Homo sapiens: one gene and its partners. The protein of the gene in region 2 interacts with the protein of the main gene of each other region in a pairwise test. Each region holds a gene or a part of one and is shown on either strand. Other genes may lie near its edges.

Region 1 (10,762 bases), on a different chromosome or scaffold from region 2:
GCTTGTACACCTTCTAGAACCTTCCATGGCCCAAAGGCATGAACTCTGCCTCAGACCCCTGCATCAGGGCAGCCTGGGCTGGCAGCAGGCTGTGGGGCTCTCCCGTCCCAGGCTTCCCCTGCAGCCCTGGCCAGCCCTGTCGTGGGTCTGCTCCCCACGGGGCCCAGCCTCTGTCCACAGGCTACTCACTGGCCCTGCTTTTTCCTCTCTCTGCCTTCTTCATGTATTTAGCCGCAGGGCTTTTACTCCAGCTCCCTTCTCCCAATCCTATCACCCTGGATACCTGCCCTAGACAACTTAATCTTGTCCCTAAATACGGCTTTCTGGAACACCCTTCTCTCTGCAGAGCAAGGGCTCCCTTCCCTTTCTGCCTGCCACCCCCAGCAGGAATCACATTTCCTGCCATCAAAATCTCCCTCCCAGAGATTCACAGAAAGAGTTATTCCCTCTACCCAGGCCTTCCTGACTGCCCCCTGAACAAACAGTAACCACTACACACTTCACTGGTACGATCTTAACTCACAGACCTGCAGCCCTCACTGAGGGAAAGGCCTTCCCCCAGGCTCCTGCATGGCGATGTGCTGCACGGACACGCATGCCCACAGTGTCCACTCCAGGCTCTCCCGACAGCCCTCCCTGACCCCACCCCTCGCCAGCTCCCTTCTATCTCTCTCCTCCCTCTTCAACCATCAAACTCTTTGAAAGAGCTGTCTATACATGCTGTCTCCACGTCCTCACCTCCAGCTCGCTTCTCAACCCACTCCAAACTGGCTTCCATTCCCACCAAGTCACTCATTCATTCATTCAACAAGAACCTGTCTGTACTGGGCCCTACATTCTGCGGGCGCTGAGTGGAGTTTCTCCTACCAAGGTCACCAGCACCCTCACCATGGCTCGATCTAATGGACACTTCTTTTTAAATTATTCATTCTTTTTCTATCTATCCATGAACTTCTGAGAATGCACCTTAAGTCTCTCAGCAGAAAGAAACAGGGCACTTTCCCTCCCCCCGAGCAGGGCACTCTCCTTGCCTTCTGCAGCGCCTCCTACTCCTGGCTTTCCTCCTACCTCTCTGGCTGCTCCTTTTCAGCCTTCTCTGCAGACTTCTCCTGCTTTGATGGTTGGAGTATTTCTGGGCTCCTGACTCAGCCCCCTTCCTTCTTACCCTCTACACCACGTTAGAATCACCTGGGTGCTTCCAAAACTCCCGATGCCCAGGCCTCATCCCAGGGTCAAATGAATTAGCATGTCTAGGGCTGGAGCCTGAGCATAGGTATTTTTACTTAAAGCTTTCCAAGTGATGCTAATGTCACCAGGAGTGAGAACCCCAGGTCTGCACTCTCGCTGGGCAATCTAACTCAGTGCCACATCTCCAATGACCAACCTCTGCTGAAAGCTCTAAGTTTCCATTTCCAGCCCAGATCTCCATCCTGAACATACTTCCTACCTGGACCCTTCCCTCCAACTACCTTCTGGATGTCAGCATCTGTCCCTGGAAGTACAACAGGTTCAAATCAGAACCATGAAACATCTGTCACTTTTCCTTTGCTCTTCATCAAGCTTGCCAACCCAAATTTAACTTGCCCATTCTTCTTCTCATGGTGCGCCAGGGGGCAGCACACCTCACTTAGTGAGACATTGGAGGTGGGGAATGGGAGAGCAGCATGTCACTTGACAGAGAAGGAAGATGGGACACCATAAGTTCTATTACCTGTGGTAAGCTGCCAGTCGCCTCTCCTTCAATGGAAAGACTTTGCATGGCACCCATGGTCTGAGCTGGGGAGGTGGTATAGTACACAGCAGATATTGACACTTGGGCTCAAACCCAAGTTCTGCTACTTAGAAAATGTGACGGTGTGCAACTATTTAACCTTTCTGGACCACCAGTTTCACCATCTGCAAAACGGCCATTATGATGGTCCCTACCTCTAGGGTTGATGCAAGGATTCAGTGAGATTAACCGTATAAAGCGCTTAGTGCCATGCCTGGCCTGCAGAAAGCACTCAGTGAATGTTAGCTATTTTTAGTAACATTACTGAGGATAAATTCCCAATTCCTGAGCAGAGCTCACAAGGGCCCCCGTGACTGTGACCTTGGCTTTAACTCCGCTCTTCTCTTCCTCACACCATGGGGCCCAACGAATCACTCAACTAATAATTGTGCTGTTTCACTTTTCTGTCTTTTGTACATACTGGTCCTGACAGCTAGACTGCACTGTCCTTGCCTGGAAAACTCCTATTCACCCTTCAAAACCCAGTGTGGAAGGTTATTTTTGTTAGAATAAGATTCTTGACTATTCCGGCCAAAGGTAACCACCTCTCCTGTGAATGGGCTCTGGGGACACACTTCTACCACTGCACACCCTTCCAATAACCTTCCCAAGAGTGAGCATAAGCCAGCCTCCTCTGAACAGAACACAAACTGCAATTTGCCACTGTCCCTGGCTGCCCTCAGGACTCCCTTCTCTTTGGATTGCCTGGGCACCAGCCTCCGCTCTTCTCCCATCCCCAGCTGTCTCTGGTGCTTCCCACTAGTCCTCCAAGCCCAATCTTCATGCTGAGTGAGTCAATACTAGAATTTTTCCAGAGGAGCTTTGATCAACACACAGAGAGGGAGCCGAGCACCTTGGAGCACAGCAGCTGCCCTTGCCACATTGGGCTGAATGCTGGCTCTTGGCACCCCAGGGCCAGTTCCCCTTCTGCTCAGATCCTCCTGGCTCAGTTCTAGGCTTATTTGCCCCACAGAAAGTAGATCTCAAGGTGTCTTCACATTGCGTGGTGCCCCCAATCCACTGATTCTCTAGATGACATTGAATAAGTCCTTGAGCTCCTCTGGGCCTCAGTTTCCCCACTTGTATGATATGGTAGTGATGACATGATTAAAAGTTTAATGAGGCTCTTTTCAGCACAGAGCTGGACACTGTAACATAGAATCTGTGTTCCACACCCTGGCTGTCACCTGACCTCACCCTCTCCATGCTCCTGCAACAGCAGCCTGACCACCCTCATTCCACCTCGCACTCATTACCACCGATTCATATGCACCTGCCCAATTCTAACTGAGTGGAGATGAGGTCAAACAGATGGAGTTGAGGGCAGCGGCAATGGCCTGGGCCCCCAGTAGCTGGGGCCTCTGCTGCTCACGGTCCCACTAGATCCTGAAGGATGGTGGGAACCTGGGAGAGGGCTTGGGATGCCATGGCATGGTGGGGGTCACGTGGTTTGCCATCTGGATGATACTGCCTAGGCTCACTGGGAGACACACCTGGGGTCTCAGCAGGAGGCGAGCAGATGCCTGGGAATGGAACATAGGCCCAGGACCTTAAGAGGAGATAGATCCCATGGCCCGGGGCTGGGCTGAAGGCACTGAGGAGCACAAGAGTGAGTCCTGCACTATCTTAGCCATGGCATCCTGATCTGGCTGTGCTCTGCTCTCCAACAGGTGTTTGCAAGGCAGGCCTACAGCCAGGGACTTGTCCCCAACATCATTTCCCCCCATCCTCATCACCACCACTAACAGTCCCCACACCTCTGGCCCCCACCAGCTCTTGGCCTCTCGGACAAAGCTTGGCACCTCCACTTTCTTCCAGAGCGCCACCAAAGACGATCAAATAACACAGAGGTCGAGAGCCACCTCCCATCAGGGTGCGTGGATCTGTTCCGGCTCAGAGAGAGGAGGGCAGAGAACTCTCTCCAATCTCACCGCAAAGAGATCTCCACCCCTTCGAGAAGCACAGAGATCAGACAGAGGAGATGCGGCCCCTTTAGGGCGTCAAAGGGCACCGAGATCTCTACATGGTCTAAACGCGCAGAGATCTCGTCCCACAGAGAGGACAGCCCCAGCGGACGGTTCCCCCTGGGCCCAGAGAAAGGGGGTGCGTGGCTTCCTCCCCCATATCCAGCCCTGCTCGGTCAGCCCCCGCAAACCCCGCTCTCTGGAACCACATTCATGGCGCGCCTAGTCGCCGCTCTGACCTTGGGGTCTCCGGCCTCCGGTATCCGGGTCCCAATCCCAGACCCTCCCCGAGCCTGCGCCAGGGATGGCCGGGAAGCTGGGGCCGCAGCTCCCCCTCCCCCGGCCCTCGACAGCGCACCGGGAAACCCGGAAGGAAAGGGAAGGGAAGGGGGGCGCACGGTGTTTAGAGACGTCTCCCCCGGGGATACCCTCCAGCCGGGCGGATCTGCGCCCCTTCTCCCCCTCCGGCTCTCTGGGGCACTGATCGGGGAGGGAGCGGCTGGGCGGACCCGGGGCAGGGAGGAGCACGCAGGGACTGGAGGCTTCGGCCCTCGGGGAGGAAAGTTGGGCGGCGGCAGGCGGAGGGGGCTCCGGCCGGGCCAGGGCTGCCGGGCGCGGGGGCACTCGCTCACCTGCTGGTCCCCCGGCCGGGCCCCGGGGTGGGCGGCTGCTGCTTGGCGCGGACTCGGCTCGGCGCGGGGCTCGGGGCACTGGGCGCAGGCTCAGCGGCCCCGGGGGAGCGATCCCTGCATCCTACGGGCGCCGCCGCCGTCTCGGCTCCGCGGCTCTGTTCGGGCTCCCGGGCTGGGCAGGCGGCGCGGGCTCGGGCTGGGGGCGGGGTCGGGGGCGGGGTCGGGGCGGGCCCCGCCTGGGTTCGGCCTGGGGCTTGGGGCCCCGGGCTGGCTCCGCCCCAGAGCGACGCGCCCAGGGCTCCGCACGTGGTGCTCCGCCCGCTCGGAGGGGGGACACACCAGCGCCCGCCGGGGCGCACACTCCCACACTGACCCGGGGGCTCACAGCCACAGACAGCCGCACACGCGGCCGCGGACAGACAGACATAGGCGGGGGTACACACACGGCGACCCGGCGACGCTTCACCACAGATGGCCACCCACGCGGACGCGGACAGGCTCACATTAACAAACACTGGCATACACACCAGCACCCGCCAGAGTATACACACACACACACGCAACCTTGCTGACTTGGGAAGGCTACCAGACACCCACCCACCCACGTGGACACGGGCATACACTGACACTCATGCCGAGACAGACACACGCTGCCATAGGCATACCTGCACTGACACAGACACACACATGCACCCTGAGACAGATACACACCCCCACACACCCACACAGACACAGACAGACACATCATTGACACACACTGACACTGAGGAAGACACTCTGACAAACTTAGACACCCACATGACTTAGACACACATCCACTGACACACTGACACAGAGACACACACACTCACTCGAACCACACTTTCCTGGAGACACACTTAGTGATGCCACAGAAATCTGCACAATGGTACACATCTACCTGAACACACGGACGCACATGCTGACAGAACCAAACACACACCCAGACCCAGAAGCAAGCAGGCAACCAACACAGAGACACCCACACACGCGCGCGCGCAAACACACACACACACATACATATATATACATGTATATACCTCTTTATATATATACTTCCACCCTCTTGAGCCACATACAACCTTCACCTTGACACATGCAGAGCCTGGAGTCACATACTTACACACCCACTGTTTCTCACTCAGAGACATGGTCACAGGCACACACACACGGAGACATACGCTGACAAACAGTTGCTCCCATGCCCATGCCCAGGACCTATGGGGACACACTTCTTGTTTAAACAAAACAGGCCATCAGGGCAACCCGCTTGGGTCCCCTTCCACGCTGTGGAAGCTTTGTTCTTTCCCTCTTCACAATAAATCTTGCGCTTCTAAAAACAAAAACAAAAACAAAACAAAACAACAACAAAAAACAGGCCATCAGCTTTTGCCCACGAAAAAAGTACAGTCATTGGAAGGGATGGTACACTTTTCTGCCACATTTTCAGGGCTCCCAAAAGCAAGAACCGCTCTTAGAGAGCCAAATGGGTGCCAGGGTCTCAGAGGGCACAGAGGTGCTGGGTTTGGGAGCCCAGAGGCTGGGACCTGCTCCTCCATGATGGGGATCTTGAAGAGGTGGGAGGGCAAAGAGGGGGGTGGGGGACAGCGTCCGTTTGCGACCTGGGTGTGGGGCTTCGTTGGACGCCTTAGGTACATACGGAGGGGCTGCTCTGCTTGCAGGAGGGGATCAGTAGGAAAGTCAGTCCACAGGAAAGTTCAGGACATGGGCCTCTCCGGCCCCGAGTTGAGTGGGGTGTCTGGGGTACAGACGGATGGACCACACAGGTCGGCTGCCAGCCTTTAGCGCCTGACGAGCCTCAGGTTGGCTAGCAGCTCCCACTATCGGCCAGAAGGGGAAGTGCAGGCAGTGTCAACGTTTCAACCCACGTGCAGCCGCCTTCCCAGAGTCACACCTACCAGGCAGGAGAGTACAGTAGCAGGAAGGTCCTACCTCCCCTAAGAACTTCCATCACGGGCTTCTCGGCCTCAGAATGAAGCTTCTACTTGCAAACTGACATTGGGTCAAGCAGGAGACAAGGCTAGGATAGAAGCTGCTGGGAGTAGGGGTGGATACCTGCCTCCCTTCCGTCCATATGTAGCAGAAGTGGGGTTTTCACTCTCCTGTTTAGTATTGGGCAACTGGATGTTGCCAGCAGGAGAGGTGGGCTGAGCCTGGTAAGTCTACATGCACCCTGAATTTAAACAGGGGGAGAGAAGCCCAGGGGATGGGGAACCAGAGCTCTGAACCTGTAGAAGTTCATCCATAAAAGCACACCTTGTGGTCCTAGAGAGGCCTCAGAGTGCAGAGACAGGCAACAGGTGTCTGGAGACAGGCACTTCCTACAAAGAGCCCTTGCCAAGATCTTGGCTACTCCCTTCTCTTTGCCAGACCCTATTTAAATTTTTTGTTTTGTTTTGTTTTGTTTTGTTTGAGACGGAGTCTTGCATTGCCTCCAGGGCTGAAGTGCAGTGGCGTGATCTCGGCTCACTGCAACCTCCGCCTCCCCAGTTCAAGCAATCCTCCTGCCTCAGCCTCCTGAGTCTCTGGGATTGCAGGTGCTCGTCACCATGCCCAGCTAATTTTTTGTATTTTTAGTAGAGACGGGGTTTCACCATGTTGGCCAGGCTGGTCTCGAACTCCTGACCTCGTGATTTACCCACCTCGGCCTCCCAAAGTGCTGGGATTACAGGCGTGAGCCACCATGTCTGGCCAACCCTATTTAATTAAAGCAATAACAGGAACATGTTGTCAGCTGTCAGAGATAAATGTTTTTAAAAACTAGTATGTCCTTTATTCGCCCCTCAGTTTCGCCCAGGGTTTGCCTTTACTTTGCCTCAGGTTCAAAGCTGGGTTAACCATATCATTACTCCTCTCTTGTGTTTTTGTTTTATTTCTTCCCCCATCATCACTCCACTGCCATCTCCTTCTCCACACAGGCACCCCTCTAGGAGCTAAAGTAGGTCTTTATGTGCACATCCTTGTAAAACAGGTAGTATTGTTGTTTGTGCATATGCATTTTCTCTTCTAACAGCCCAAAGCTTTTCTTTTTATGTTTTACTTCCATTGAACCTACATAATGGAAAACTGCACAAATCCTAAGTGTTCACTTGAAAGGGTTTTCTGTTGTTGAACACATCCGTGTGAGCAGCACAACACAGAAACCAAACGTTATCAGTACCACAGAAGACCTCTTTGTGCCCCTTTCTGTCACCACCGCTACACCCACCCAGAGTTAACTACTACAGTCACATCGAATTCCCCTTGCTAGTTTTGCCTGGTTTTGATATTTATTTAAACTGGAATTGTATAATAGGAGCTCTTTTGTGTCTGGCTTCTTTTGATCAGCTTTACGCTCATGAGAGTCACATGTTGCTGCTTGTTGTTGTAGTTCATTCATTCTTGTTGCTGTACAGCATCCTATTGTATGCATATACCAGACTTTACCCATTCTACTGCTGATGGGTGTTTGGGTAGTTTCTAGTTTGGGGTTCATGAGTAGCACACCTATGAACATTCTAGTACATAAATTTTGATGAACATATGTACCCATTTCTGCCAGGTACATATTTGGGAGTGGAATTGCTGAGTCATAGGATAATGTGTGTTCGCTTTTAGCAGATGTTGCCAGACAGTTTTCCACAGTGGTTCCACCAGTATTCACTCCACCAGCAGTGAATGCATGCATCCTTTAACACTTAATACTTTTGTCATTTTCATTTTATCTCCTTCAGTGGGTGTGCAGAGGTTTCATATTCTGGTTTTAATTGGCATTTCCCTGATGACTAATGAAATTGAGCACATTTTTTATGATTAATGGCTGTTGGTGTGTATGTGCTTTTCATTTATATAAATGGGTATCGTTCTAGATTTCCTTCTTTTCCTTATGTTTCTCCCTCAACACCCTGCTTTTGAGCTGTATCTGTGTTGTGGTGTAGGCAGCTGGCTCTTTGCTTCTGATAGCTGCAGAATGTTCTGTGTTCTGCATCCACAGCACTTTATTAATCCATTCCCCTTGAGGTGAGAGATTGAAGAAGGTAAATGGCTGGAAGAGTAGTAACTGTCTTGTGTTTCTGTTTTCTTCACTGTGCTAATTCCAGGGGTGGAGGTGGACAAAGAAGCAAGTGGGGTCTCGGATCCATAAACAGTCAGGACCAGGAGGCATCTTAGATGGTGGAGGTGCAGGTTGGGGCTGAGAACAGGAGGCCTGGGGGAAAGGCCACACAAAAGCCAGCAGACCCAGAAACGCCTTGCCCAGCCCTCCCCAGCAGAGGCTGGTCCTGCCTCATGCAGATGGCTATCTGTGAGCTCTAGATGGAGGGCATCTGGCACAGTGGAGGCAGGCTTGAGGAGCCTTACTGAAAGTAAGAGGGTCTAGTGAGAACCCTGGTTTCCTCCTTCTGCTGGGCGCTGGAACTCTGACTCTTATGTGCACTTCCCACTAGGCAGGGGGCTGGGGAATTTCACATTGAGACACTGACCAGCCCAAGAGAAAACATCTCTGATACTGGGCACTGACATTACCATCTATACTGCCCACTTGTCAAGAAACTCTGCCTGCTCCGCATTCATCCCCACCCCTCTTTCTCCTTGCCTGCCTCTTCCATGAAGGCTGTAAGAGGCAAACAGTATTTGCCTTTCCAGTTTTTCCTATACCCAGTGGCGGCCATGTAACTTAATGAGGGCCAAGGGTCAGAAGCAAACTTCTGCTAGGGAAGGGCAGTTTCTGAGAGAGCATTTGTTTTCCTGGTAAAAGAGGACAAGAGCTGCTGGCTCTACTGTCTTCCTCTTCTTGATTCTCCCTGCCTTGAATGAGGACATAATGCTTGGCGCTTACAAAACCTCTCTCAGCCTTGAAGGTAAGGCTGGGAGATTTGCAGAAACATTGGCCTTGATGACAGTGAACCATAGAACTAATACCTTTGTACTTCTCTTTCATGCTCTTTTTTTTGAGACGAGTCTTGCTCTGTCGCCCAGGCTGGAGTGCAGTGGCGCGATCTCGGCTCACTGCAACCTCTGCCTCCCAGGTTCAAGCAATTCTCCTGCCTCAGTCTCCTGAGTAGCTGGGATTACAGGCACGTGCCACCATGCCCAGCTAATTTTTGGATTTTTAGTAAAGACAGGGTTTAGTGTGTTGGCCAGGCTGGTCTCTAACTCCTGACCTCGTGATCCAACTGCCTCAGCCTCCCAAAGTGCTGGGATTACAGGCGTGAGCCACCGCGCCTGGCCTTCTCTTTCACTCTTTGTTTAAACAAATAAGACAGGATTCTCTGCCACCCGCAGCCAGATTGTGTTGGGTGAGGAGGGGCCTGGTAGCTCAGTTACTCCAAATACAAACTATTTACTAGCTCTGGTGTTTTTAACCTCACTCTTCCTCCCCATTTTTGAAGGTACCCAATGCCTGGAGTCCTGAGAACTTTCCAGGGTTTTGAAGAGAGTGGCTATCCCTTGCTTTCTTTTGCCAGCTTTCCCTCTGCAGACACACTCTGCTCTGGCAGTTATGGCTCAAACTTGCAGGAAGTTGTCATCATATCCGCTGTTGGCCCCTCTTCTGTACATTTTGTCCTTTTACAATTATTTCACTGTCGGCTGGGGACTGTGGCTCATGCTTGTAATCCCAGCACTTTGGGAGGCCGAGGCGGGCGGATCACCTGAGGTCAGGAGTTCGAGACCAGCCTAGCCAATATGGTGAAACCCGTCTCTACTAAAAATACAAAAATTAGCCAGGTGTGGTGGTAGGTGCCTGGAATCCCAGCTACTCGGGAAGCTGAGGCAGGACAATCACTTGAATCTGGGAGGCAGAAGTTGCAGTGAGCCGAGATCGTGCCACTGCACTCCAGCCTGGGTGACAGAATGAGACTCTGTCTCAAAACAAACAAACAAAAAAAAATTATTTCACTGTCATTTTAGTGACGTTTCAATAGATGTCTTCCACTATATTTTGAAGAAAGTCCTCCATTTCAGTTTCTACCCCAGGTATTTTTAAGTAGTAATCAGATACTACCCTCATGGGTTGTGAGCATTCTTGCTTTATTTTGAAGGCATGAGCAGTTGAGACCCTCTATCTTAGAAGGGGCAGAGAAAAAAAATAAATGTATTCATGGTCAAGGCCATGATCTGCTGCCAAAGGGCTGGTGACCCAATCCTGCCTTTATACCTAGACAATGGACAGGGTAATGCTCTTAATTGAGGGACCATTCCCATGTGGGAAGCACCTGCTGTCTCTTACATGTACCCTCAGCCCAAGTCAGACACACATGCCCTCGCCTCTGCCAGTGGCCCCACTAGCTCAAATAATGCCTGCCTGCAAATCTGCAAATGAGGATGAGCCGCCCCTTCCTCAAGACACTTGACTGCCATCTGCTGGAAAGTTGAGA
Region 2 (10,775 bases):
AGGTTCAGGCTGATGGGGTGAAGAAGCAGCACGGTCCCTGGAAGGCAGCCAGAAATGGGTGAGCTTTTGGAGGGCCTTCTTGTTCAGAGGGGCAGGGGATGAAGAGCCACAGGCTGGGGTCAGTCCTCAGGTGAGGGATTACACCCACATAGGGGAGCTTAGCATTTAATACAGAAATAGGAAGGATAACCTCGGCTTCCTGAATTTTACAGGGAACTTTAGTATGGACTGGGGGAAAGTGACATCTAGTGTTAGCTGAAAATAATCCAAAGTCGACTATTCAAAACTACAGTCATGACAACATGCGGTAACCAGCTGGACAACAATGACAAGTACACACCAGTTCAAGGTCCATTTTCCATTAAATCCTGAGTGCATTTTTCCTCCAAAAGCATGTTTTCCACCTTCCTTGTTGTGTCTCACTCAACAAAAATACCTCTAGAACTAATTAAAGAGTGAGTTTCTGAGGGATTTGGAATCAGATACAAAGTGACCTTCGGAACCCAAGCACACATTCCACAGGTGAGAAGCCAGAGCCAGAGAGGATGGTGGTTCCCGAAGCCGGGGTTCTCTGAGTTCCCTGGAACCCTGATCTCCCTCCTTCCTTCTCCATTTCCACGAGCACCTGCCTGTGTCCGCCCCATGCCCAGCAGCGCAGGAGCTAGGGGTGCGCAGCAGAGCCTGAGAGCAGCTCCTCTTTGGGGTCCCTCGTGTGCCTGCTGTCACATGCTACATGAGCTAACAGGAAAGCCAGAAAATCACACTGCTTAGTAAGTCTATCCTGAATATACCCATTTAGTAAATAGGAGGCCTGCGATGCAAACACACCCTCTGTCACCGAGAACTGCAATGCCAGCCCCTCTGCCAACTCACTCAGAGCCTCATGGGGTATCTTGAGAAGCAGATCTAAATTAAAACTGAAGCTTAAATGCCTTGTCTACAGTCATCATCCATAAAGATATCCAGAGACAAGAAGCTGTTGCTCCACATACACCATTCAGAAAACAAGGCAATTTTAACATCCCATGTTGGAAAAAAACAAAAACAAAAACAAGGCACACTTTTCTTAATTGGACCTCATTCAAATATTTACTGGGGAACATGTCTCCATGTCTCCTGGTAAAGTCAGGTAACTGCCTGCTTTGTAATGCATGGATTTTGCTTATGATGTCATAGACGTCAATAGAAATTCTACAGTTGAAATTAAAGATGAGTCAGCAAGGATGAGAAACATAACCAAAGCATAGAAGGAATGGGGAACCTTCTTAGGAGCTCAGATGCTTCATTCATCTCATGCAGCAATTCACATCTGTAAACAGATGATTAGGTGGTGCCCTTACCCCACATGCACCTTTAAAATGACCTAACGTGCTTTCCCCCTTCAGTGGGCAAGCTCATCACATAAATGGGCATGTTCCCGGCTCATGCCAATAATTCTTCCAGCGCCCCAGACTGAAGAAGTGTTGTCATTTAAAAGCAGCAAATGTGCTGTAAACATCAACCAATAGTAGTCTTTGAAGCTACAAGCAAGACACACTTCGCACATTGTACTGAGGTTGTCTGCCAGTGGGATTTTACCCCTCAAATCCAGGTATGGTCAGAGACAGAGCTCCATGAACTCACTTAACTTAGAAAAAAACATCGGGAACAGGCACTTGAAAGGGGAAACAAAACAGGTCTGTTACCGAACAGGAGACCTTCAAACGTGGCCAAATTCCATGATTCAAACAAGCAGTCATGATAAAGAATGTGTATAGTTTTGACTTCAGATAGAAAAAATATAACTAGAAATATAAGATTTAGAAAAGACTTTCATCTTTTTCTAGTTAAAAGCACCAAGTTCTCTTAACTGAAATGATTAAATAATTACACAAGTTGAATAATATTGTGCAGTTATGGTAAGAAAATAATTCTGCCATTAAGTAAGGATGACATTGTATACTAAGAACATTCATGTTTTCAAGACAAACCTGCCAACACCAATACTTAACAGATTCGTTTTAAATACATAAGAATCTGAGCTAACATGACCATGCACTGGTGTCTAAGGTAGGCTTAGCACATACCTAATTACTTATGACTGCAAAGTTAGGAGTCTTGCTCTTAAAATGCTCCATCTTATTGTAATACTTGGCCTCCAACGCTAAAAAAAAAGTTTCTTTCAATACAATTCAGACAGGCTGTTTCAAATAATCAAGGTCCTTATTAGAAAGAAAGCGCCAATCACATCTTGTAGCAAACAGGTGAGCAGAGGCCACTCTTGACTGGAAAACATCAAATTTAGCACCTTAATTAATACTGAGCGCAAAGGAGAGCATTTACTAGAATACGCGCAGTTGCTTTATTTGTTGACGTTATTGCCAATAACTCATCAAGTGGGTCAATCATGAAGTATGATGAATCCACTTCAACGCTTCCGCTATAATTACAATGATTAAAAGCAAGAATTGCTTTGCTCGAATGTCTGGAGAAAAATGCACAATCCCTAACCGTGGGAGGGCATCATTATAAAGCTGAAGGCAGTGACCAGACGGAAAGCCTGTGATTCCACAGCGCCTGCAGTTTTTACTGCGGTTTATTTCCAGGTAATCCCCGCATATTTTCTCGGGTTTGATTACCATGGGCAACAGTGGGATAGCTATTCATATTACAAAGTACTTCAAGAAACGAACACCCACATTTTACATGAAATTTAATTTTCATATTTTGTAGTAAAAGCCCAGAAAGGTGCTACTTGAATGAAGATGCACCTGTCTCTACATAGAAATCTTTTTAACATCACAGTAGCGACGACCACAGTCCTAGTTTAGAATCATTATTATGACGATAGGAATTTGTAGCAGCCCTCAACCCGTGGCCTTCTGAACCGTCTCTCCACTGTCCTATAAGGGAGGGCTAACTGTATTCCTGGTCGCTCCTGGGACTGGGAGCTCCTGGGGAAGGAATCCTAAAGGAGTGGTTGTCAATGCATTTTCATTAACAGCCGCGCTTCTCGGCAGCCTCCTAGGGCTGGGGTGGCCACGTGCTCCCTTAAACTGTTTTCACAACTCGAGGCTGTGCTGTGGGTGGCAACTTGAAGGTTTCCAAGAACTTTTCGTTTTTCTTTGGGCCAACATTTCTGTTTTCTGTCAATCAATAGTTTAGTTATTTAAAAATAAGAAGGTGAAGAGGGAGTTATTTAGGGTGGGAACCAGAATAGACTTCAAAAAAGAAATCCGTATTACCCAGTTGGCGTCCCAGCGGTTCCCCGAATGGCCTAGAGCCCCCAGCACCTGCCGAGGCCGCGCCATGCACCTGGCTGGGCTCAAACTGGCCAACTCAGACCTGGCCTGGGCGCCCGAAGGCTGCAGGGGGGACGCTCCGGTCCGAGCCACCGCCTGGGCCCGAAAGAGCCGCTCCTGGGAAGCAATGCCGGGCCAATCTCAAATCCCAAATTCTGGAAAGCACTACTTCCCACGCAGTAAAGGGAAGCCCGGGCGCCTCAAAACCAAACCTTGGAAGACGCTGGAGGAGCAAAGCCTGCAAGTTTCCAGTAAGACACTGGGCTGGAGGGAGCAGAGCGGCCAGGGGGCGGGTGCCCACTGCGTCCCGGGGCTCCGGCGCCCACCCTCCGGCCAGCCGTCCCCGGAGACAGGGAAGGGGTCGCGGGGAGCGAGGGGGCGTGGAGGGAGGAGGGGCGGGGGGAGAAGGGCGCGAAGGAGAGGGAAGGGGGGCCGGAGGTGAAGGGGCGCTGAGGGGCCGCACTCACCCGCGCAGGTACCAGCAGGCAGCCCTGGCGTCCGCGGGAGGCGGCCGGGGGCGGGGGTCCCTCGGTGCCCATCGCCGCCCCTGCGGCTGGGTCCGCGCTCCGGGCCGGCCGAGCTCAACGCCAGGACCCCGTCCGAGCCTCCCAGGGCCCCGCCAGGCGCCGCGTCCGCGCCCGCGCCCCTCTGCCGGCTCCGGCTCGGGCTCCACCGGGGCGCAGGGCTGGGGAACCGGAGCTCCGCCCGCCGACCCGGAGCACCGCCCACGCAGACCCGCCCCGGGCGAGGGAGGGGCCGGGCGCGCACCCGCGGGGAGGGCGGCGAGCGGGGATCAGCCGAAGTCGGGAGAGGGGCGCTTCCACGGGGCGGGAAACTGGCGCGCGACTCTGGGGGAAGTGCAGGATGGGGGGACAGGGGCGCTCCCGCGGGGGTGGATGGGGGACCATAGCGGGGCTGGCGGGGCAGGGGCCGGCGCACGAGGCTGGAGGAGGGGAGCGCGCGCTTCTACCCGGGCTGGGTCGCCGAGGTCCGCGGCGCATCGTGGCGGCGGTGGGCGGAGGGGGGCGGGGGGCACCTCTTCTCCCTTGTGGCGCAGGTGGGCGCGCTCTGGACCGGCTTGACGACCCCTCCCCGCCGCCCCACCTCCCTGGCCAAAGGTTCTCAGCTTCTAATCAGGGACATTTCTAGTCCACAGCCTCGAAGCCATGGGTTCTCCCCGGCCCTCTGAAGCCGCCACACCTGTGCCAGCCGGCCGCGTCCTCAGACCTTTCCCCGCGGAGTCTTCCCAGCACTTGGAGACGCAGCGCAGGGCCCCGAGGACGGCCTGGCCCGGAGAAAAGATACCGAAGCTCCAACTTTCCCCAACCCCGCTCCCCTCCTCCTTCCACCCTCCCTTCCCGCCCCCAAAGCTCGGGGGTCCTATCCCTCCTCCGGTCCGCGGAGTCTCCCGAACCCTGCGGGGACCCGGCGCTCGGCGGTGCCCTCCTGGGGCGCACGGGGCTGGGGCGGGAGCGAGGAGACCAGGTGGGGAGGGGACCCCAGATCTCAGACGCCAGGGGAGACGGCGTTTCCCGCTGTTCATTCAGGTTTGTGCCAAAAGGAGCCTCACAGATGCAGTATTGGGTTTGGTAGACTCAAATCGTCTTGTTTTAATGTAAATGAAAGTAAGTTTAGGATAAATTCCAGTGCGGCGGGGGCAGGCAAGGCTACCCACATTTTTTAAAAAGAAGCCAGCCCGTATTTTTCTCCCTTTCCAAATCCTCCGCCCCCCAGTCCTTCGACCCAGGCACGAGCGCCCATCGCGGAGGCCACGATGCCCGTTTTATTCCCTCTCCACGGCAAGGAAAAGCAGCGAAATCTGAGGTCTTCAGAGGTTAACCCTATCTAGGAGCAGAATGTGACGCATTGTAAACAAATAAATATTGAAAACTCGATGTTAAACACTTTACTTTTTCTGACTCCGACTTGCTTGACCCCTGAGCAGACCTGGGTTTCGAACACAGACGCCCTTCCCCATTTCTCTATTCTCTGTATTCCTGTTTCACCTTCACGGCAGTCTGCCAGCACTTCTTAGCACTCAGTTTAACCAGAGGACAAGCTCTTGAATAGCAAAAACCAGGTCTTTTTATACGTGGCACAGTGGCTGTTACAAAATATGCTTCTTGGGTGAATTGGTAAAAAATATTGTATTACTTTTTATTTGTAGCAAAACCTAGAATAAGAAAAAGTACAAGAGATTATTGTTTGCCTTTAAATTGCATTTTTAAAAGAGCGTGCATATAATCTCTGAGAAATTAAATGTCTACAAATAGCACAAAGATATTGTCTCATTACCTTGCAAAGGGACATTCTATTCCAGGGCCTGAAGAAGGAAAAACAGCGTGTTGCATGCATAAATGTTGACTTTGAGAGACAAGTTTTTGTTAAAATTTTATCGTTAAATGAATAGACACATATATTTTTGTTTTTCAGACCAAAGGTAATTGTTAATTCATTTGTAAAATAATGTAGTTTTGGCTAACAATCTCTGGAATCCTTTCTATAATAAAATTTTGTGATTCCAGGACGTCGTAGGCGCTCTGGGGCTGCTTTTGAAAGGCTAATTAATTCAAGTTTTAACTGCCTATCTGCTTTTATGCATCTGTGTCAGGACTGCACGTAAGGGTTATTTTGCTTATTTTAAATACTAGGGTTCTACTGCAATAACAATAACAATAAAAAGTAAAACCCTGACTATCCTGAAACTCTGCGAGGGAATGTCCCCCATGAGGTTACCAAAATTCAACTTTCTGGTTTTTGTGATGAGTATAGCTTTGATTCTGAGATGTGTCTAAAACCAGTTGCAGTTAGTGTCTCTTTATTAACTTTTAACTTTGAAATAATTCTGAATTTACAGAAACTTTCTAAATGTAGTACAAAAAACTCCAGTAACCCCTCATCCTCATGGGTATGTTCCAAGACCCCCAGTGGCTGCCTGATACCGTGGATAGTACTGAACTATGTATGTGTGTATATATATGTATCAATTGCATGCATATATATATGTATCAATTGCATGCATATATATATATATATATATATGCATATATATGTATGCATCAATTGCTGACCAAACTGATGTATGTGGCCTAGACAAACTGGAAGATGCCCTGGTCAAAAGGCAGGAGCAATGAGGTTGTATTTCAAGGTAAAAATACAACCTTGAGGCCGGGCACAGTGCTTCACACCTGTAATCCCAGCAATTCGGGAGGCCAAGGCAGGTAGATTGCTTTGAGCTCAGGTGTTTGAGACCAGCCTGGGCAACATGGTAAAACCGCGTCTCTACAAAAAAATACAAAAATTAGCCAGGCATGGTGGCATGCACCTGTGGTCCCAGCTACTAGGGATGCTGAGGCTGGAGAATCCCTTGAACCCTGGAGGCGGAGGTTGCATTGAGCCGAGATCATGCCACTGCGCTCCAGCTTGGGCGACAGAGTGAGACCCGGTCTTAATAATAATACAACCTTGGCCTTGTCATTTTTATAGTCAACATATTCAGAATGGCCAGGTACATTGTCTGTTACTAATGAGACTTTATATTCCAACCTTCCCCCTTCCAAGGCTTTGGGAGGAAGTACTGGTGGAGCCCTTCCATAAACATGGTGGTTACCACTCATGCTTTCTGGTTATGTTGCCTGAACACAAGCAGGTAACGTTTGTTTTTTGAGCATAAGTGTTCCTCTGTGTGTGCAGCACACCTGGCTTGGCCACACGTCCTACAGCATTGCACACGGCACAGGGTAAATCAGCCCTTCAGTGTTTTATGCCCTGGGGCCTTCTTTGCCCTTTCAAGAACGTAGGTTCTGTTGGGTATCTTCTTCCAGAGGAGCCTGGTCTCACTGCAATTGAAGACTTGCTTTGGATGGCATCCTTTCCCTTTAATCAACTTCAACTCTGCCGGAAATATGGCAGCAGCTTCTTCACTGGCAAACACAGCCTCTCCAGTTTTTTGGTTTTTGGTTTTTGGTTTCGTGACAAGCCCACTCCTAAATCAGTGTAGCTATGCCTCACTTGCCATGAATGGCTCAGTGTCACTCACTTTGGGGGACTGACTGCTGAAGTCTTCCCATGGGATTGTGCTTTCTGCGCTGACGTGCCCTCGGTGGGAACACCTTTCCGCTCATGTCTTCTACCTACAAGTTCAGCGTCTTTTCCGTCTTAAATAGGCACTTATCACTCACTGCAGCCGTAACGTTTGCAGTTTGAAATGTGATAGCAAAACTAGCATGATTTCTTTTTTATTTTTATTTTTATTTTTATTTTTATTTTTTATTTTATTTATTTATTTTGAGATAGAGTCTCACTCTTGTCGCCTAGGCTGGAGTGCAGTGGCGCGATCTCGGCTCACTGCAAGCTCTACCTCGCTGGTTGAAACAATTCTCCTGCCTCAGCCTTCTGATTAGCTGTGATTACAGGCGCCCACTACCACGCCAGGCTGATTTTTTTGTATTTTTAGTAGAGATAGGGTTTCATCATGTTGGCCAGGCTGGTCTCAAATTCCAGACCTCAGGTGATCCGCCTGCCTCAGCCTCCCAAAGTGCTGGGATTACAGGCGTGAGCCACCATGCGCAGCTGGGTTTCATTTTCGAATTAACTTAAAATACTTTCTGGACTGACAGCCTTGTGGGAACATCCTTTATATTGCTTGATTTGCTAACTGAACCTATTCCCCCTCCAGGCATAGTCTTATTTCTGCAAGGAAGACCTATTACCTTCCTGTTTCACACTTGGTTACCATTCTGTAACTAGTTTTTCTGCCCCTAGAAGTTTCATTCTTACCACACTGGAAATCTTAGCAATTTCATCATACATTTTTTTCCTTTCCTTATTAAAGTGAGTACTTTCACTTTTTCACTTAAGGAAGCACTTTATGGCTTCTCTTTGCCCTAGTCTTGTGTTTGGGGCCAATACTGAATAAATTAAGCAAGACTTGAACAGAAGCACTGTGCTACCTGGACAGTCAATTTATAACCCAGACAGCTACTAAGTGTCAGGATGTGTGGTGCACACAGTGAATTCATGGGACAGAGAAGGCGTGAGGATTCGCCATGCTTCTCAGAACAGGGCACAACTTCACTCTTATGAACTGAGAGGGCAACTTACATCCTGAGAGGCACAAAGGCGTCGGTGTGAGGATTTGCCATGCTTCTCAGGGCACAACTTCACTCTTATGAACTGTTTATTTCAGGAAATTTTTATTTAATATTTTCAGACTGCAGTTGACCACAGGCACCTGGGACCACAGAAAGTGAAACCGCACATAGCTGGGGCTGCTGTGCCCTTGATCTTTCACTCAAGTCCCAGGTAATACTCAGCTTCTCTCTATTTATATGCAGATTACTTTCCATGAAACCTGTTCAGAGTAATTTGCAGAAATAATGTGCCATTTCCATTAAGTACTTAACAAATGTTTCCTAAAAAAATCAAAAGCACTCTCACGCCTGCACAGAGTATATTCATCACTTCTATTCTGTACCGGTAGTGGAAGTCCTAGCCTAGCACTTAGGCAAAAGAAAGAAATAAAAGGCAACCACATTGGAAAGGAAGAATTCAAATTGTCCTTGCTTGCAGAGGAGTTGGTATTACATATAGAAAACCCTAAAGACTCCTTCAAAAAGTTGTTAGAACTAATTAATAAGCACATTCAGTGAGGTTGTAGAACACAAAGTCAACACACAAATATCTGTTGAGTTTCTATACATGAATAGTGGCTAATCTGAAAAAGAAATCAAGCTCATTTATAGTAGCTACAAAAAAAAAATGATACTTAGGCATCAATTTAACCAAGGAAGTGAAAGATCTCTGTGCTGAAAACTATAAAACGATGAAAGAAATCGAAGAGGACTCAAATAAATGAAAAGATATCTTGTATTTGTGGATTGGAAAAATTAATATTGTTAAAAAGTCCATATGACCCAAAGTGATCTACAGACTCAGTGCAATTCCTATCAAAATACCAATGTCATTCTTCCCAGAGATAGAAAAAAAAAATTCTAAAATTCCTGTGGAACCAAAAAAAGCCTAAGAGCCAAAGCAATCTTGAGGGAAACAAAAGCCCACGCTGAAATAAGAATTCAGCTGGACTTGTTTACCAAGACAACAGGTCACATGACTCCACTAATAAGACCAGAGACAGTAGAGAAACCAGCTAAAGCCAGCTAGAACCAAGATGGCAACAGAAATGACCTTTGGTCCTACTCAGTGCTTATTATTTCTCTAATTATAATGCATTAGCATATGAAAGCCATGCCCACCAGCACCATGGCAGTTTACAGATGCCATGGCAATGCCCGGAAGTTACCCTGTAAGGGGGAGAAACCCCAGTTCCAGGAGCTCCCCACCCCTTTCCCTGAAAACTCATGAATAACTCACCGCTTGTCTAACATATAATGAAGAAATCGCGCTAAGACAGCCAGCTAGAAGCAACCCTGGAAATACCCTCCTATAGTCTTGCCCTGCTCTGCCTGTGGAGTGGCTCCTTTTGTTCCTTTTTTTCCTTAATAAATTTGCTCTTGCTTTTCTCTGCCACTTCACTCTTGAGTTCTTTCCTGTGCTAAAGCAAGAACCCACTTGGCTTCCTAGGCTGAGCCCCAGTTTTGGAGATCACCCTGTGACAACACCACTTGACTTCAAAATATACCACAAAGCTATAGTAACTAAAACAGCATGGTATTGGTATAAAAACAAACATGCAGACCAAAGAAACAGAATAGAAAGCCCAGAAATAAATCCACACATCTACAATCAAGTAATTTTTGACAAAGACACCAAGAACACACAGTGGGGAAAGGACCACCTTTATAAATGGTGCTGAGGAAACTGGATAGCCACATGCAAAAGAATAAAACTGGACCCTTATCTGTCACCACTTAAAATCAACTCGAAATGGATTAAATACTTGAATGTGAGACGCCCAAACTATGAAACTACCAGATTAAATATTTGAATGTGAGACCCCCAAACTATGAAACTACTAGAAGAAAACATAGGGTGAACACCTCATGACCTTGGACTGAGCAAGGACTTTTTGGATTAGTCCTCAAAAGCATAATCAACAAAAACAGAAATAGACAAATGATATTCCAAAAACTATGAAGCTTTTGCACAGCAAAAGAAACAATCAACAGAGTGAAGGAAAGACTGACTGAATGGAAGAAAATATGTGCAAATTCTACATCTGGCAAAGGTCTATTATCCAGGATATATAAGGAACTCAAACAATAGCAAAAATCTAAGTATTCTGATTAAAAAACAAGACAAAAACTTTATTAGATATGTCTCAAGAGAAGACATACAATTGGCCAACGGGTATATAAAAATGTGGTCAGCATCAGTATCACTAATCATCAGGGGAATGTGAATCAAATCATGATGATATGTCACCTCACACCTGTTAGAGTGGCTCCAACACACATCTCCTTCCAAAGCCCCAGACTCAGCCAGAGCAGGGCAGAGGACAGACAGATGGCAGGGCGACCAGCTGCAGAGAAGAGC
Region 3 (9,977 bases), on a different chromosome or scaffold from region 2:
ATTCTTACCAGTTCTAGAAGTTATCTCCACCAATCTTTCCTGCTAGTGTCAAAATTATTTTGTTTCTCATACAACAAAAAAAGCCCCTTTAAAATGAAGGAGATAAGCTGACCCTCATAGGAAAGGTCCAGGGCCTCATAATGCTATAATAATATCAGAACAGTATATCTGATCAAAACAGTATTTGGCTTCTGAACAAAACAAAATCTTCTGTTTACATTTCAAATTGTAGAACTGTTTGGACGCAATTATCTTCCAGCCCAACATTTTCTTTTTCCTTTTTTTAATATCTATAAGCTGTTCACATTTGAAGTCGTAATGATGAAATGGGGATAGGGTACAGGGATAATGATTCATCAGTTTATTTACATGTTTTTTAGGGATCCAATGTTCCAAAATATTGTTTTTCAACCAATCAAGAAGGCTATTAGAATTACTTATTAATAAAACTTGTCCTATATTGTAATTTGGGATAGTAAGTAGAGTAGTACATATATATACAATATGGGAGGGGACATGTTCAATGTTTTTTAATTGATAAAGGTATAAAACAAAATTAGCTGGTGGCACAGTAGATGGTACTTGTACACGGTACAGGGTAGCTGTAATCCCAGCTACTTGGGAGGCTGAGGCGGGAGAATCACTTGAACCCAGGAGGCGGAGGTTGCAGTGAGCCAAGATGGCACCATTGCACTCCAGCCTGGACAACAGAGTGAAACTCTGTCTCCAAAAAAAAAAAAAAAAGAAAAAGAAAAAAATATTTGGAGAGTGCTGATCTAAAACTCAGGATCTATATTCCACTTGCTCAATGGACACTCCTTTGGAAAAGTATAAATTTGCCACAACCACCTGGACAGTGTACTTGGGAGACAACTTTGGGATTAGCTTAATGGAAAGGTTAGTACTCATGAAGGTAAGGCTATCACATTGGTGACGCCCTCAAAATCAAAGAGAAAAAAAAGAAAAAAAAAAAAAAGGAAGTTTGGTTTTTCCCTTTTCTATTGTCTAAGTATTAGGTTGGCTTTTATACTTTTTACACTGACTTTTTTTTTTTTTAAACTGTTAAGTTCAGGGATCCAACTGCAGGTTTGTTACATAGGTAAACTTGTGTGTTGGGGGTTTGTTGTACAGATTATTTCATCACCCAGGTATTAAGCCTAGTACCCATTAGTTACTTTTCCTGATCCTCTCCCTCCCCCTGCCCTCTACCCTCTGAAAGACCCTAGTGTGTGTTGTTCCCCTTTATGTGTCCACGTGTTCTCATCATTTAGCTCCCACATGTAAGAGAACATGTGGTTTTTGGTTTTCTGTTCCTGTGTTAGTTTGCTAAGGACAATGGCCTCCAACTCCATCCATGTCCCTGCAAAGGATATGATCTCATTTTTTTATGGCTGCATTCGTATTCCATGGTGTATATATACCACATTTTCTTTATCGAATCTATCATCGATGGGCATTTAGGTTGATTCCACATCTCTGCTACCAAAATATTTTTCTTTGTAATTTTTATTTCTGTATCTCTTACTATCGCAGATTTATCTTTAACTCTTAAAGTTCATTGTAGAAGAGAAAATAGTGAAAGTGAGTCAAGGAAAGCCTTTATAGCACCAAGCAAGTTTTTAAGTATCTCCACACAACACTAGAATTTCTCCTTTCCCCACATCCACCAAGAAATAAATGTCTTTATTAATACATTTTTATACCTATAATGGGAAAGCAATGTATTTGATAGCAGTGGTTCTCAACTTTTCTTTACAACACAGTTATCTCTGTAGTGCCTGGCACAGAGTACATAATCATAATAATAGCTTATATGTATTAAACAATCAATAATCTGTTAATTTTCTGGTACATATTCTGTAACTAATAAGCGATGTGATCCTTCTTCATTTAAATACACTCCTTGTTAGATTATGGCATTAGACTAAATGAAAAAGTCCCATTCAGATAAAAGTCTATTATGCCCTCCCTACATATTATTATAGTATAGAATAATCTAAAGTTTTACAAACTAGTCTGGGAAATCCAATCCTTCCTTTTTTTAAAAAGGCCGAGAGAAGGAAACTGTACGTTTGAATAATGTATGCATTTCCTAGATCAAATGTGCCAGTTACTCAGGAAGTGAAATACAGAGGTGCCAAGACTCTTGCCCTCTGCTACTGAAAGAGCAGCCACTGATTGCTATGTGTGATACAAAAGAAATTTAAGAACTCAAGAGAGCACTTCTGACACAGCTTATTATTGCCATACATGACATCATAATTCAACAAGTCATTATATAGGGGTTTCAGATAACACTTATTTTGTATATCTGTCTTAAACACATTTCTAACATCACAAAACATAAATCAGGAAGATATCTGCTGCTGCTGCTATCAACAGATGCTGACCTGTACCATAATGATACTCAATAAATTGGTTCTAATTTCTTTAGATTATTAATTCCATAGATAATTATTCTGCATATGTCAACCAAGATTATGATTTCCTATTACTGTTTCCTTTCTGGACAGCCTCAATGAGCTTTAATAATAGCAGTTCATTTTAAGCCAGTTAGGTCTGACAAAACTTGGCAAGATATATTGCAATTGAGAGTTATTCATAATAAAAAGAGAAAAGAAGGGGCTGGGCATGGTGGCTCATGCCTGTAATCCCAGCACTTGGGAGGCCAAGGTGGGCGGATCATCAGAGGTCAGGAGTTCAAGACCAGCCTGGCCAACATGGTGAAACTCTGTCTCTACTAAAAATACACAAACACACACACACACACACACACAAATTCAGCCAGGCATGGTGGCGGGCGCCTGTAATCCCAGCTACTTGGGAGGCTGAGTCAGGAGAATGCTTGAACACAGGAGGCAGAGGTTACAGTGAGCCAAGATCGCACCACTGTACTCCAGCCTGGGCGACAGAGCAAGACTCTGTCTCAAAAAAAACAAAAAACAAAAGAGAAAAGAAGGAAAAGAAAAATACTGCACATCACTCTATTCTGAAAAGATCCCTACTTTAAATATGAAAATAGGCCGGGTTCGGTGGCTCATGCCTGTAATCCCAGCACTTTGGGAGGCCAAGGCGGGCAGATCACCTGAGGTCAGGAGTTCGAGACCAGCATGGCCAACATAGTGAAACCCCATCTCTGCTAAAAATACAAAAATTAGCTGGATGTGGTGGCATGCACTTGTAGTCTCAGCTACTAGGGAGGCTGAAGCAGGAGAACTGCTTGACTCTGGGAGGCGGAGGTTGCAGTGAGCCCAGATGGTGCCACTGCTTGCCTCGGTGACAAGAGTGAGACTCCAAGTAAAAAGAACAGAAAAAGCTCCATTTTAAAAGGGATAGATGTGGCATTTTGCTCTTTCTCCCACTTTCTTCCTTTTTAAGCTACTTCATTTTCCAGTTAAGTAGTTCCAGAGATTGTTCACCATGAACCTATATTCCTTTGGTCTTCAGATTAAACCAGCCTTTTATTCTTAATCAATAATGAAAGTTGGGGGTTAAATAACCACTAAAGGATAAGTAAGTTATTTCATTCTTAGGTTGAAACAATCTGTGTAAGTTAATTGCTTTGATATTCTGTTTTGCATACAACGAGAATCAACAAGTTTCAATGTAACACTTCGATTAATTCTATCCATGAAAAAAATGGCTTTTCTTTTACAGAATTCCAGATTCTGCATGAATAGCAGGAAAAAAATGTTGAGAAAACATGTCTTGGCTGGGCATTGTGGCTCACGTCTGTAATCCCAACACTTCGGGAGGCCGAGGCGGGTGGACCACTTGAGCTCAGGAGTTCGAGACTAGCCTGGGCAACATAGTGAAAGCCATCTCTACCAAAAGTACAAAAAAATTAGCCGGATGTGGTAGTATGCATCTGTGTTTCCAGCTACTAGGGAGGCTGAGGTAGGAGGACTGCTTGAGCCCAGGCAGTCAAGGCTGCAGGAGTCGTGATCACATCACTGCACTCCAGCCTGGATAATAGAGCCAGATCCCACCTCAAAAAAAAAAAATGTCTTAACTTCTGACATTTATTCTCAAAAGACAAAAGTCATTTACTCAGGAGGGATGGATTATTGTAGATAAGTAAGTAGGAGTATATTCCAACCCTCCTCTGTTATGTTTCCTCAGTTTGCAGAGCTACTTTTGAAGTTCAGGGCTTATACACAGAAGAGATACAGGGAACAGCACAATGCACAGAGAATCAAGCTGTTTAAATTCAAAGACAAACTATATTTCCTCATTTCTCTTCCTGCAAAAAAACTGTAAACATAAAGTAGGTTGCAGATACAATATCAACTTCCGTATGTTCTGTAAAAAATTAAGGGAAAACATGGAATGATAGCCAAACTATAAAGCATACCTGTGATGAAATATTGAGAGAAAAATGAAACTGTGTTCTTTCTCAAACTGCTATGCTTTAAAGTTAAGAATAACAGATGCAATACATCAAGCTTCCATGTTAATTCAACACTTTAAAGTTTCATTTTTAAATAGCTTTATTGATATATAATTCATATACAATTCACTCATGTACACAATTGGATGGTTTTAGTTTATTCACAGATTTGTACAATTATCACCACAAACAATTTTAAAACATACTTATGCCCTCAAAAAGAAACTTGGTACTGATTAGTAATCACCATTCCCTCATAAATCCTCATCTCCACATCTAAGGAATTACTAATCTGCTTTCTCTCCTATGGATTTACCTATTCTGGACATTTTATATAAATGAACCAATATATGGCCTTTTGTGACTGGCTTCCTTCGCTCAGCATAATTTCTTCAAGGTTCATCCATGTTGTAGCATATATCAGTACTGTAGGCTTTTAAAATTATCAAATAATATCCCATCATACATACATATTTTGTCTTTGATTCATCACCTGACAGACATTTGGGTTGTTACTACTTTCTAGCTACTGTGAATGCTGCTGCTATGAACATTCATGTAGACATTCTTATGTGAATATATGTTTTCAGTCCTTTTGGATATATACTTTGGAATGCAATTGCTTGACTGTATGGTAATGGAGACTGACTTTTAACAGATCTAGCTGAGTAAATGTCTAACAGAACAATATACTCTAAAAGAAGGGTTACACATACTTTTTAAAAAGCACTTGCCCTACTCCATACTAAGTTAAGTAAACCCACCTATAACTATAAAAAAAATTCTGAAACTGAAATTATTTTCTACTTTTTATTTTAAAAAGGTGCAGAGTTGGCTGGATGTGAAGGCTCACACCTGTAATCCCAGCACTTTGGGAGGCCGAGGCAGGCAGATCACATGAAGCCAGGCGTTCAAGATCAGCCTGGCCAACATGGCAAAACCCTGTCTCTACCAAAAATACAAAAATCAGCTGGGTGTGGTGGCATGCGCCTGGAATCCCAGCTACTCAAGAGGCTGAGGTGGGAGAATCATTTGAACCTGGAAGGCATAGGTTGCAGTGAGCCAAGATCACACCACTGCACTCTACCCTGGGCAACAGATGGAGATTCCATCTTCCACCTTCCAAAAAAAAAGGTGCAGAGTTTACTAATTTAAAACATTGATATTTCATATTTATTTAAATAAAAATGATTGAATTTATTTGAGTACAGGAAACAGTGACATTTCTGTAACAGTAAACAGTAACAGAAGTAAACAGCATCCACAAACACATAAATAATGAACATTTAAAAATCACTTACTACTGTTTCCTTGGCAGGAGGCGGCTTGATCTGTTGACTGGGAATCAGGACAAAAGTCAAAGTACCATGCATATCAGACTGTAATAGAAAGATCAGGTTATTTTTTAAATTTGCATTTATGAAAATCATTCCATGATTTTATGATCTATATTCCCTAAACTGGACTATTTCAGAACCCCTCCACAGACTTAAATGACCAGCAGCACTTTGCTCTACCAAAGCAATGAATGGGGCTGGATGAAAATAAGTGTGTGAAGATGTCTCTAGATTTTACAACAGAATCAGTAGATAGTACAGATTCCACTGTAATAACAGATGCTGAATAACTAGGACCATAAATCTAGTCTGTGCGTGTGTACAAAGTGATCATAAATTGCACTCAAAAGATGTCTAGAAATGATTTTCTGATTATACTAGCACTATCCAATAGAACTTTCTCCAATGATGGAAATGTGCTATTTCTGTATCTTAATAATGGTAGCCATTAGCTACATACTGCTTCTCAGCACTTGAAATGCAGCTAGTGCGAATAAGGAACTGAATTTTAAATTTTACTTAATTTAAACAGAAATAGCTATATGCAGCTAGTGATTATTATGCCGGACACTGCAGATCTATAGCACTGTTATTATCTAATATTATTAGGAAAACAACAATCAATTACAGATAATAAAATAAAAGAACACAAAAAATCATCAGGACACAGACTTTGTTTTGTTACTGTTTCCCAAGTGGCTAGTGCATATTAGGCACTCAATAAATATGTACTGAGTGAATTAATGAGTTATATTACTGATTCCAGAAAAATAAAATATATGTGATAGTGATACATCAGAAAGTAAAAAAATATCAGTGGTACCACCCAAAAATAAAACTGCTAACAAATACTGTGGAACAGTTACATCATGGAAAAATCAGGCTAGAAATCATCTAGTGCTCTTAACAGTTATTTTAAAAATATTTTATTCTAAAGTCTAATAAGAGCTTTCTAAAAGCTATCAATTATTCTTCTAGCTGCGTCAACTTACCAACAAGTCAAAAACCTCATTGACATCTTTCCCCCGAATTTCAATGCCATTAATCTCTAGAACTTCATCTCCTTCATGCAACAGACCACTTTTCTCTGCAGCACCCCCTTTTACTATCCGGCTAATGATGACAGAGTCCATTTCATTACGAACTGTAGCACCCTAAAAATATATATATGTATAATTTAAAAATAAAAATAATACAATTTTTGTTAAGCATTTATTTTTAAATTCTATTTTTTCCATTCAACAATACTAACCTTCAGTTATCTTAAGAAAAAATTTATTTACACAACTAGAGTAATTGTAATTAGATTTAAAAGTTGACCATTTCCCCCACACTTTCTGCTTCAGAAATACTCTATTCATTAGAATTCTGAAATTAACCAGACTTTTGAAGCACACAACAGCAGAAAAATGCACTTGTTTAAAAACAGTATGTGGGACACTTACCAACGGAATATCACGAGCCTTTTCTATACGAACTATTTTTACAGTTTCTCCTCCATACTGGCCAATACTTTCATAAACTCTCTCATCTGTAATGGGCTCTAGCTGCATTTCCTGCTCAGCAACCTTATCGTGGGCCAGTAAAAGTGCCTGTTTCAAAGAAATCCATGGCATTTTAAGTAACAGCATGATTTATTTCTGCAGAGTGATTTTTAACCTATGTACATAGTATTCTGACCATTAAATCTTTAAAAGTGTTATAATTAATTAGAGCTAATAATAAAGATGTGTTAAGTATACTAAGGGCATACTCTGGAATGGGTTATGAAAGTCTAAAATGCTTACTAAACTTCGGAAGATAACATCAATGTAAAGGTCTACACACCCTAGATAATTAAACTTACAGAAAATACAACCAAAGGGGGGAAGAATTTTTGCCTAATTTTTAAAGAAAAAGTTGTTTCAAAAATAATTTGGTTCATTTTAAATCTGAAAATATATAATCCAACAATAACTACTATGTTATAGATGGGGTTGTAAACATCAAAATAGGCTAGAGAATGTTTGACATCTCTTCCAGTACTGGAGTCTTTGATTTAAAAAAATAGAAGAATGCTGGAAAAACCACATATATAGTATTCTGTCCATTTTCTACCTGAATATGTGGAGTATTCAGCAAAGCAGTTAGTTCTTGTCCTTCCTTATGATGAACTGGCTTCAAAACAGTTTGTACCTAAGAAACAAAAATAAAGATTATTCTTCCTAGATTATAGGAAGTATCAGTAGCACCTGTATGCAGGGTCATATTTTTTAAGTACAAATTAAAATAATAAAAATACTTGTAAGAAATAAAATCACTAAAAAGAATTATTAGAGTTTTCAATCTTGTTATTATGGATAAAACAACAGTATTTCTTATTAAAAAAACACTAAATAATATTTTGGTACTTACGCCTATAGACAAAATACTTCCATCTTGAACGTTTCACCCAACATACCATAAAATTCATTAATAATAATTACATAAGAAAAGAAAAACTGTCCTAACAGTTACCTTGCTATTTTATAGTTTTTAAATCATTTATGTGACTATTTAAAATCAGAGATGACAACTTAAAGAGTTATAGTCAGGCTGGGTGCAGTGGCTCACACCTGTAATCCCAGCACTTTGAGAGGCTGAGGCAAGCGGATTGCTTAAGCCCAGGAGTTTGAGACCAGCCTGGGCAACACAGTGAGACCCTGTCTCTATTTTATAAATTTTTTTATATAATTAAAAAAAAAGACTGACAGTCTAACAAGATGAATTTATATGAGTGTAATGGAACAATCACCATAATATAATGGATTACATTAAATTTCCCACAGTCGAGAAATCTTTGTCTTCCTAGGATAAACTCCCCTTGGTTATAAATTTTTTTAGCCTGTTTCCTTATCTTTAGAATGGCACCTACTATTTATGGTGCTTCAAAGACTGATTAAGAAAATCTTAAAACAGGCCAGATACAATGGCTCACACCAGTAATCCCAGCACTTTGGGAAGCCAAAGCAGGCAGATCACTTGAGGTCAGGAGTTCGAGACCAGCCTGGCCAACATGGCAAAATACTGTCTCTACTAAAAATACAAAAATTAGCCAGGCGTGGTGGCGTGTGCCTGTAATTCCAGCTACTCAAGAGGCTGAGGCATGAGAATGGCTTGAACCCAGGAGGTAGAGGTTGCAGTGAGCTGAGATGGCGCCACTGCATTCCAGCCTGGATGATGGAATGAGACTTTCTCAAAAAAAAAAAGGTAATTCATAATACAGGAACCCAGTAATTCTATACCTTTTATGGCTATTTTAAATCATTTTATCAGTAATTTTCCTATGAAACCCAAGAGATGATAATTTTGGGATTAATTAATTTTACCACAGCAAGTGGATCAAAGCAATGACAGTACCAAAACCAGTCTGTCCTCAGGTTTTGGTACTTAGAAAATTATATTTCTAATTGTAGAGTTCCATATGTATAAACAGGACGGCACAGCAAATATTATCTTCTTCAAGAACTCAACTAAAATCTTACAATGGACAAGGCTTTAAGGCTTTAAGACCCAGGATTTAAGACTGTGGGTAACTAAAAGTTGTTTTTAAAAGAGGGTATTTTCCCTTTTAAAGTTTATTAAGTCTACATTAATTTTAAATGAAATTTGTAGTCTTGATCATACACCTTTTGACAGCTGAAGAAACTCTGAGGATGGGAAGATAATTCTGGATTAAAAATGTACCAAGGGTATACAAAATACACTGAGTCAGCTCAATAATAATTTTCCGTATTAGAGATTTTCTCCCTATTCCCACTTTTAAGTCAGTTCCTAAACATCTCTGAGATCTTACCTTCTAAAGAAATTTAGAACTCCCGTGTTTACCCACTGCCCTACTAACCTATATGTTGCTTATTCTAGTGTCAACACATATCATCAGCTACTTCTACAACGGTGTTAAGGAATTAAAAGGCTATTCTTTTATTCTACTGCTCCTTTCCATTGGCCTATAAAAATACTCTAATCCCTTATCTTTAAAAATACCTTTTCCTGACCTTGTACTGTTCTTTAGCTATACCACTTTTCCTTGTTTTCCTTCAGAGGCAAGACCCTTTTGTATTTTAAAACTAATTATTTTTTTAATTATAAAAATGATGTATGTTAAATGTGAAAAATCAGAAAATTGATAACCAAAAGGAAGGAAGTAAAAGAATGGACTTTTATTATACTTAGGGATAATCACTTTGGTATATATCCTTCCTACATTTCGCTACTTGTTTTTACCAAAA

What was found.
Region 1: the proteins of SNTG2 (region 2) and SCN5A interact in a two-hybrid assay, tested with the Homo sapiens proteins (one study listed by IntAct).
Region 3: the proteins of SNTG2 (region 2) and PALS1 interact in binary tests that used the Homo sapiens proteins (3 or more experiments, as listed by UniProt).

The regions. Positions count from the first base shown.
Region 1 is NC_000003.12:38,645,164-38,655,925, forward strand, and holds the start of SCN5A (sodium channel protein type 5 subunit alpha), read right to left. Parts: upstream 4,525-10,762; 5' UTR 4,368-4,524; intron 1-4,367. UniProt on the Homo sapiens protein: Pore-forming subunit of Nav1.5, a voltage-gated sodium (Nav) channel that directly mediates the depolarizing phase of action potentials in excitable membranes.
Region 2 is NC_000002.12:944,042-954,816, reverse strand, and holds the start of SNTG2 (gamma-2-syntrophin), read right to left. Parts: upstream 3,969-10,775; 5' UTR 3,821-3,968; coding exon 3,749-3,820; intron 3,533-3,748; exon of another isoform or gene 3,425-3,532; intron 1-3,424. UniProt on the Homo sapiens protein: Adapter protein that binds to and probably organizes the subcellular localization of a variety of proteins. May link various receptors to the actin cytoskeleton and the dystrophin glycoprotein complex.
Region 3 is NC_000014.9:67,299,314-67,309,290, reverse strand, and holds part of PALS1 (protein PALS1), read right to left. Parts: intron 7,903-9,977; coding exon 7,825-7,902; intron 7,320-7,824; coding exon 7,173-7,319; intron 6,882-7,172; coding exon 6,720-6,881; intron 5,770-6,719; coding exon 5,692-5,769; intron 1-5,691. UniProt on the Homo sapiens protein: Plays a role in tight junction biogenesis and in the establishment of cell polarity in epithelial cells.